Linked DNA regions of Homo sapiens: all the other regions are linked to region 1. Evidence: fine-mapped expression QTL. A gene starts in region 1. Each other region holds a variant in brackets. All regions are shown on one strand. Distances are from middle to middle. Region 1 holds the start of MARK4 (microtubule affinity regulating kinase 4). Region 2 overlaps CKM (creatine kinase, M-type). Region 3 overlaps MARK4 (microtubule affinity regulating kinase 4).

Evidence for each region. PIP is the estimated chance that this variant, and not a neighbour inherited with it, causes the effect. A credible set is the group of variants that fine-mapping cannot tell apart.
Region 2: its variant is the best candidate, but not a certain one, in a credible set for the expression of MARK4 in whole blood (INTERVAL, PIP 0.54).
Region 3: its variant is the best candidate, but not a certain one, in a credible set for the expression of MARK4 in blood mononuclear cells (TOPMed, PIP 0.66).

The regions. Positions count from the first base shown.
Region 1 is chr19:45,249,626-45,252,381 of GRCh38, forward strand. MARK4 (microtubule affinity regulating kinase 4) reads left to right here and starts at 1,646. Exons shown (of 17, transcript NM_001199867.2): 1 at 1,646-2,014. The coding sequence starts at 1,964. RefSeq lists silencers at 1,321-1,700, 1,931-2,080 and an enhancer at 2,554-2,756.
Region 2 is chr19:45,311,702-45,314,457 of GRCh38, forward strand. It overlaps CKM (creatine kinase, M-type), which reads right to left. Exons shown (of 8, transcript NM_001824.5): 5 at 48-219. Among named protein-coding and RNA genes, the nearest start is that of CKM, 9.8 kb to the right of the region's middle. The variant C/T (reference allele first, on the strand shown) is at 1,588.
Region 3 is chr19:45,283,015-45,285,770 of GRCh38, forward strand. All of the region lies in intron 12 of MARK4 (microtubule affinity regulating kinase 4), which reads left to right. Among named protein-coding and RNA genes, the nearest start is that of MARK4, 33 kb to the left of the region's middle. The variant A/G (reference allele first, on the strand shown) is at 1,294.

The DNA of each region.
Region 1 (2,756 bases):
TAGTCCCAGTGACTTGGTGGGGCTGAGCTGGGAGGATTGCTTGAGCCGGGGATGTCCAGGCTGCGGTGAGCCATAATCGTGCCACTGCACTCTAGCCTGGGTAATGCAGTGAGACCCTGTCTCAAAAACAAAACAAAGCAAAGCAAAACAAAACACCCCCAGCTCTCTGCAGGTGGGGGTGTGGAGCCTTAATTTGTAGCATTTGCCAATTTCCATGGTGTAAATATTCCCACCATGGCTAATTTCAAGCTACCAAGGTGATATCACATGGCATTTTTGCCCCCCATTATATAGTAATTTTACTGTGCAGCTACAATAGACGTAGGTAACCTCAAGATCACAGATAATGGCAAATGTAGTAAGATAACTAGGACGTGATGAGTATGTATTACTTGTACCTTTAATGTAATTTAATTGTATGTTTGCATAATTTAATTTTTAATAATGGCTGTGTTTAACAACCAGTTCCAAAATTCCTGAGACATAACAATCAGCTCGCTCCAGCCAGATCCAGCACACTGCTGTTTTAGAAGGGGAAACTGAGGCTCAGGAAAATAAGCCTCAGATAGAAGAAGGCAGGGCACAGACCCCTTCCCAAAACCATGTGACTCCCAGGCCAAGACTATGTAATGCCTGTCTTTCTTTCATCCCACCCTGGTCCACAGAGCATGGATGGTCCCCACAGCGCTGTGTGGCCTCCGAGAGGCTCTTGTCCTCTCTGGTCTCAGCCTGCCCGCATGGGGAGTGGCTGTGCCCTGCAGGCGAATACCTGCACAGGGTTCCTTCGCACCTGCCAGTGAGCAACACACGGATTCTTCCTTTCACTTTACAAACTGGGAAAGTGAAGCCCAGAAAGGGCAAGTGCTTGCCCCGGGTCATACAGGTGGACAGAGAGGGTCCCCACACCCCAGCTGGGGTGCAAAGGAGTGGATGCTGCAGCCCCAACCTGCGGGTCTGGATCTATGTGGCTGAGTGGAGGCAGCCTGACTAGGGAGGTCACTGAGCCCTCAGCAGTGGCCAAGCCCCGCACACCATCCCCTTCACCCACCCCACCCTTAGGCCTCCGAGGGGAGAGCTTCCCCCGCTCCCCCCCGCCAACTGGGGAGAGAATGGGCCAGGGGGAGGGACAATGTGGGCAGCGCCTCTGGGGTCTTCTCTGGCTCAGTCCCTTTATCTCTATCTCTTCACAGATCTCTGCGTCTCTGTATCTCTTTGTCTCTCCCTGTGTGTGTGTGGGGTCTCTCTCAGTCTTTGTCCCTCTGCGTCTCTGGGTCTCTCTGTCTCTGTCTCCCTGCGTCTCTCTCTCTCTGTCATCTGGCTCTTCCTTCATCTCCTTGCGCCTCTCCACCCTTTTGTAACTCGTCTCTCTCTCTTCGTGTCTCTCTATCTCTACGTCTCTCGATCTCTCTCTCTGCGTCTCTGGCGCTCTGCCCCGGCCTCTCTCTCCCCTTCTCTCCTCTCCAGTGCGCCTCTCGTCTCGGGCGAGAACACGCTCCCCGCCGGCGTGCCCAGACCCGCCTCCGCCCCCGGAGCCCCCGGAGCCCCCGGCGCCCCGACCAGCCCGGGCCTGCGCCTTTAAGGGCCGGCGGCGGGGGGCGGGGTCCCGGCGCCCCGCCCTGCCCGCCCCTCCCCCTGACGTCCCTTCCTCCCTCCCCAGCCCCTCCACCGCCTCCCTCCGCCGCCGCTTGGGCCGGCTCCGCGCCCCCTCCGCGGCCCCCGCCCGCCCGCCTGCCCGCCGCCCCCATGGCGCCCGGGGTCCCCGCTGCACGGGGCCACTAGGACCCTCGGCGTCCCTTCCCCTCCCCCGCCCTGCCCCCTCTCCCGCCGCGCGGACCCGGGCGTTCTCGGCGCCCAGCTTTTGAGCTCGCGTCCCCAGGCCGGCGGGGGGGGAGGGGAAGAGAGGGGACCCTGGGACCCCCGCCCCCCCCACCCGGCCGCCCCTGCCCCCCGGGACCCGGAGAAGATGTCTTCGCGGACGGTGCTGGCCCCGGGCAACGATCGGAACTCGGACACGGTGAGTGGGGCCCGGCCCCTTGGGGAGCCCTGGCTGGGTCCAGCCGCCAAACCCTTCTCCCCGTTGTACCCCTCGCCCCGCGAGCCCCTACCCTCGTTTCCTGGGCCCGACCCGGCTCGTCACCTCTCGACCCCTCCCGGACTTCCAGGCCTCTCCACCCTCCCCACCTTTTCCAGCCCAGCCCGACCCCTGGGGGCGCCCCTCTCTCGGGACCCCTCTCTTGTCCCCGTGCAGACCGCTTCCGCTCGGGTCTGTTCCCTCCAGGAAGCCCCTTCCCCTGCTTCCAGGAGCCCCTCCCTTCTCTTGCCTGTGCTAAGCCGTTTCCCCTCCAGGCCGTCCGCGTCCGACACCTCGCCCCCTCCCGGATTTGCAGGGCCCCTGACCCCCCAAGGCCCGGCCCTGGCACTCTCAGCAGGGCCTGGCCCAGTCCTGCCTCTGGCTCCGGCCTTCCCTGTCTGGGGCTGGGTGCCGGCTCCCCAGGAGCCCCCCTCCTCTTATTCCCAGCCCTCTGCCCCTCCAGGACGCACCCAGGGCGCCTGTGGGCAGCCCCTGGCAGGAAGCTGGTTTCCACCTCTCCTGGGCCCCGGCCCTTTTCTGGCTTCTTCAAGGTCTCTCCCGTCCCAGGCCTGGTCCCCATCTTCCAAGCAGCCCTGTCCCTAGATCCCAGCACCCCGGGGCCCCCAGATGCCACCTGGACCCTTTCTGGTCTCTTCCTCTCCCAGGAAGCCTTGGCCTCCAACTT
Region 2 (2,756 bases), 62 kb after region 1:
GAGGAGGCTGGGGGAAGAGGAAGCCAGGGGGCGGGGAGGGGCCTCACCAGATGCCACGGGCGTCGGGCCAGTCGCGGGCCATGCCTGAGGCCAGCAGCAGCGGGGACACGGGCTTGTCGAACAGGAAGTGGTCATCGATGAGCTGCTGCTGCTCCTTCTCCGTCATGCTCTTCAGAGGGTAGTACTTCCCTTTGAACTCGCCCGTCAGGCTGTTGAGAGCTATGGGGACACACGAGGGAGTGGTCAGCAGCCTGTCCCACCTCAACCAGGGTGTGGAGGCCCAGGGTTTCCCCTGCTGCTGCTCCTAACGGGCCTGGGCCTTGGCCCCCTGGATGTCCTAAAGGCACCTGAACCCTGTGTCTAAACCCACACTTGTGACGGCTCCCCAAAATCTGTTCCTGCCATCTGTCCAGGCCCCCAGGAATGGCCACCCCATGTGCTCAATCTGGAAAACAGACCCACCTCTTCCCCTGAGGGACCCTCACATCCAATCCACCTGCAGGCCACAGTGTGCTGGTGCCTGCTCCTAATGGCTGGCAACACAGATGGCTGAAGTCTCAGGACTTTGAGAGGCCATTAGTAAAAATTATTATAAAGTAGAATGGTAGCCAGGTGCACTGGCACGAGCCTGTAGTCCAGATACTGGGGAGGCTGAGGCAGGAGGATCACTTAAGCCCAGGAGTTCGAGTCCAGTCTGGGTAACATAGCAAGACCCCCATCTTTTTTTTTTTTTTTTATGAGACGGAGTTTTGCTCTTGTTGCCCAGGCTGGAGCGCAATGGCGCGATCTTGGCTCACTGCCACCTCCGTCTCCCGGGTTCAAGCGAATCTCTTGCCTCAGCCTCTCAAGTACCTGGGATTACAGGCATGCGCCACCATGCCCGGCTAATTTTGTATTTTTAGTAGAGACGGGGTTTCTCCACTTGGGCGCCTGGCCCAAGACCCCAATCTTTAAAAAAAAAAAAATTGTAGGCTGGGCGCAGTGGCTCATGCCTATAATCCCAGCACTTTGGGAGGCCAAGGCAGGCAGATCACTTGAGGTCAGGATTTTGAGACCAGCCTGGCCAACATGGTGAAACCCCGTCTCCACTAAAAATACAAAAATTAGTCGGCCATGGTGGCACACGCCTGTAATCCCAGCTACTCAAGAGGCTGAGGCACGAGAAACACTTGAACCCAAGAGGTGGAGGTTGCAGTGAGCTGAGATTTTGCCACTGCACTCCAGCCTGGGTGACAGAGTGAGATTCTGTCTAAAAAAAAAAAAAAGAAAAAAAATTGTGTGTTTATTTGTATATTCATGTATAAAATATGTGTATAATGAATTTGTGTTTGTGCATATGTACAATAAATCTATAATATTTATATATCTTATACATATTCATATAATATACAGACATACCTCGTTTTATTGCATTTTGCAGATACTGTGTTTTTTACAAATTGGAGGTTTGTGGCAACTCTTTGTCCAGCAGGTCTATTGGAGCCATTTTTCCTACAGCATGTGCCACTTCGTGTCTCTGTGTCACATGTGGGTAATTCTCACAGTACTGCAGACTTTCTCATTATTACTATATCTGTCATGGCGATC[C/T]GTGATCAGTGATCTCTGATGTTACTGTTTTAATTTTGGGGGGTGCCACCGACCTTGCCCATATAAAAGGGTGAACTTAATGGATAAATGTGTGTGCTCGGACTGCCCCACTGACCAGCCATTCCCTCATCTCTCCCCATCTCCTTGAGCCTCCGTATTCCCTGAGACACATGATTTTGAAATCAGGCCAATTCAGTTCATAACCTTACAATGGCCTCGAGGTGTTCAAGTGAAAGGAAGAGTCAACATTTTTCACTTTAAATAAAAAGCTTCATAGGCCAGGTGCGGTGGCTCACGCCTGTAATCCTAGTGGTTTGGGAGGCTGAGGCAGGCAGATCACCTGAGATCAGGAGTTTGAGACCAGCCTGGCCAAGATGGCGAAACCCCGATTCTACTAAAAATACAAAAATTAGCCAGGCGTGGTGGCGCATGCCGGTGATCTCAGCTACTTGGGTGGCTGAGACACGAGAATTGCTTGAACCACGAGGTGGAGGTAACAGTAAGCCAAGATTGCACCACTGCACTCCAGCCTGGGCGACAAGAGTGTGGCTCCATCTCAAAAAAGAGATTCTTTTCAAACTATTACTGCTGGCCAGGCACTGTGGCTCACACCTGTAATGCCAGCACTTTGGGAGACCAACATGGGAGGATCACTTAAGCCCAGGAGTTGGAGGTTATGGTAAGTCATGATTGCACCACTGCATTCCAGCTGGGCAACAGAACAAGACCCTGTCTTGAAAAGAGAGAGAGAAAGAGAAGGAAGGAAGGAAGGGAGGAAGGGAGGGAGGAAAGAAGGAAGGAAGGAAGGACGGAGAAGAAAAGGGAAGGGAAGGGAAGGAAGGGAGGGAGGGAAGGAAGGGAAGGAAGGGAGGAAGAAAAGAAAGGAAAGGAAGGAAGGAAGGAAGGAAGGAATTGCCGCAGCCATCTCAACCTTGAACGACAACCGCCCTGATCAGTCAGCAGCCCATCAACATCAAGGCAAGGCCCTACACAACAGAAAGGTTCCAACTTGCTGAGTCCTCAAATGATCACAACATTTTTAGCAGGATTTTAAAATTAAGGTATGTACTTTTTTTTTTCTAGACATAATGCTATTGTGCACTTAACAGACTACAGTATAGGATAAACATAACTTTTTTTTTTGAGATGGAGTCACACTCTGTCCCCCA
Region 3 (2,756 bases), 33 kb after region 1:
AATTCAGTGGCTTTAATATATTTATAGAGTTGTACATCTATCATGATGACCGATTTCAGAACATTTTCATTACCCCAAAAAGAAAATTCACAACTTTTAGCAATCAACTTCCAGGCAGGGCATGGTGGCTCATGCCCGTAATCCTAGCACTTTGGGAGACTGAGGCAGGCAGATCACCTGAGCGCAGGAGTTCGAGACCACTGGGCAACATGGCGAAACCCCATCTCCACTATAAAATACAAAAATTAGCCGGGCGTAGTGGCAGGCGTCTGTAATCCCAGCTACTCAGGAGTCTGAGGCAGGAGAATTGCTTGAACCTGGGAGGCGGAGGTTGCAGTAAGCTGAGATCGCGCCACTACACTCTAGCCTGGGCGATAAGAGTGAGACTTCCTCTCAAAAAAAAAAAAAAAAAAAAAAAAAAATCAACTTCCAATCCCCCTTCCACCCTCAGCTACTAATCTACTTTCTATGTCGATGAATTTGGCTATTCTAGACATTTCAGGTAAATGGAATTACACGATGTGTGGCCTTCAGTGACTGGCTTCTTTCATTTAGCAGAAAGTTTTCAAGGTTCATCCATGATATGGGTATCAGCACTTCATTCCTTTTCATTGGCAAGTAATATTCCATTGCATAGATAGACCACATTTTGTTTATCCATTCATGAACACGTGGATTGCCTCCACTTTTTGGCTGTTGTGAATGATGCTGCTGTGAACATTTGTATCCGTGTTTTTGTGTGGCTGTGTTTTGCCGTCATTTCTCTTGGGTACGTATCTGGGAGTGGAATTGCTGAGTCATCTGGTAACTGTGTGTTTAATAATAGTTTGAGGAACTTTCAGGGTGTTTTCCAACTCTGTTCGTTTTACAGCCCTGCTTGTCTGCAGGGGTGAAGTTCTTACTCTGGGACAGGTACTAGGCTGTCTGCTTGTCTAATCTTTTTTTTCTCTGTCTTACATATCTCACCTTATCTTTTTCTAGATCTCTCAGCTCCTAGATTTCTTCTTTTTTTTCTTTTTTTGAGACAGAGTCTCACTCTGTCGCCCAGGCTGGAGTACAGTGGTGCGATGGTGGCTCACTGAAACCTCAGTCTCCCAGGTTCAACTGATTCTCCTGCCTCAGGCCCCCGAGCTGGAATTACAAGCCACCTTGCCCAGCTAATTTTGTATTTTTAGTAGAGACAGGGTTTCACCGTGTTGGCCTGGCTGGTCTTGAATTCCTGACCTGAGGTGATCCACCCGCCTCGGCCTCCCAAAGTGCTGGGATTGCAGGCGTGAGCCACTGTGCCCAGCC[A/G]CTCCTAGATTTCTTTTCTTTTTTTTTTTTTTGGAGGCAAAGTCTCGCTCCGTTGCCCAAGCTGGAGTGCAGTGGCGCAATCTTGGCTCACTGCAAGCTCCACCTCCCGGGTTCATGCCATTCTCCTGCCTCAGCCTCCCGAGTAGCTGGGACTATAGGTGTCCACCACCACGCCCAGCTAATTTTTTGTATTTTTAGTAGAGATGGGGTTTCACTGTGTTAGCCAGGATGGTCTTGATCGCCTGACCTCATGATCCACCTGCTTTGGCTTTGGCTTCCCAAAGTGCTGGGATTACAGGCATGAGCCACCGCGCCTGGCCCGCTCCTAGATTTCTTACATCTCAGTTTTAGAATCCAGCCCAGGGCTGAGTGCAGTGGCTTACGCCTGTAATCCCAGCACTTTGGGAGGCTGAATTGGGTGGATCACTTGAGCTCTCAAGTTCGACACCAGCCTGGGCAACATGATGAAACCTCATCTCTACAGAAAAATACAAAAATTAGGCTGGGCGCAGTGGCTCTTGCCTTGTAATCCCAGCACTTTGGGAGGCCGAGCTGGGTGGATCACCTGAGGTCAGCAGTTTGAGAGCAGCCTGGCCAACATGGTGAAACCCTGTCTCTACTAAAAATATCAAAATTAGCCGGGTGTGGTGGTGAGCACCTGTAATCTCAGCTACTTGGGAGGCTGAGGCAGGAGAATTGCTGGAACCCGGGAGGCAGAGGTTGCAGTGAGCCGAGATTGTGCCATTGCACTTCAGCCTGGGCGGCAACAGCAAGACTCTGTCTCAAAAACAAAACAAAACAATTAGCTGGGCATGGTGGTGTGCACCTGTAATCCCAGCTACTTGAGAGGCTGAGGTGGGAGGATGGTTTGAGCCTGGGAGGCCGAGGTTGCAATGAGTCCAGATCGTGCCACTGCACTCCAGCCTGGGCGATAGAGCCAGACTGCCGTGTCTCAAAAAAAAAAAAAAAAAAAAAAAAGAATCCAGCCCAAGTGTTAGCTAGAATCTCCTTGGTCCACTCATCAGGATCAGGATGGAGCTCTGATATCGAGTCCAGTTGGGATTAATCTGCTGTAATGGGGGCACAGGAGGACACATTGCACAAAGTGGCTGCTGAAAGCCTGCGCTCTGACCTCCCCTCCACACTGAAGTGAGGGAGGAGAGAGGTGTCAGGGAATCTGAGACCCAGCATGAGCCCCACACGGGAAGTGGTGCTTCTGCCCTACCCCCACCATTGCTGGAGGTCAAACCATTCCCTGCCCCTGCGTCTTGTCTTTCCCACCTGTAAAATGACAGGGCGTGCCCAGAAAGTTCCTAAGGAGCTTGTGACTTTGGTATCATATGGTTAGAACGTGGTAACCTTCAGAACTCCCCACACTGAGACCTGAGTTCCAGGGATTCTCAGAGAGGGATTGCTGGCAGGTGCCAGGTATCTGTCATTGTCATTGTAGAGCTCTCAGCTTG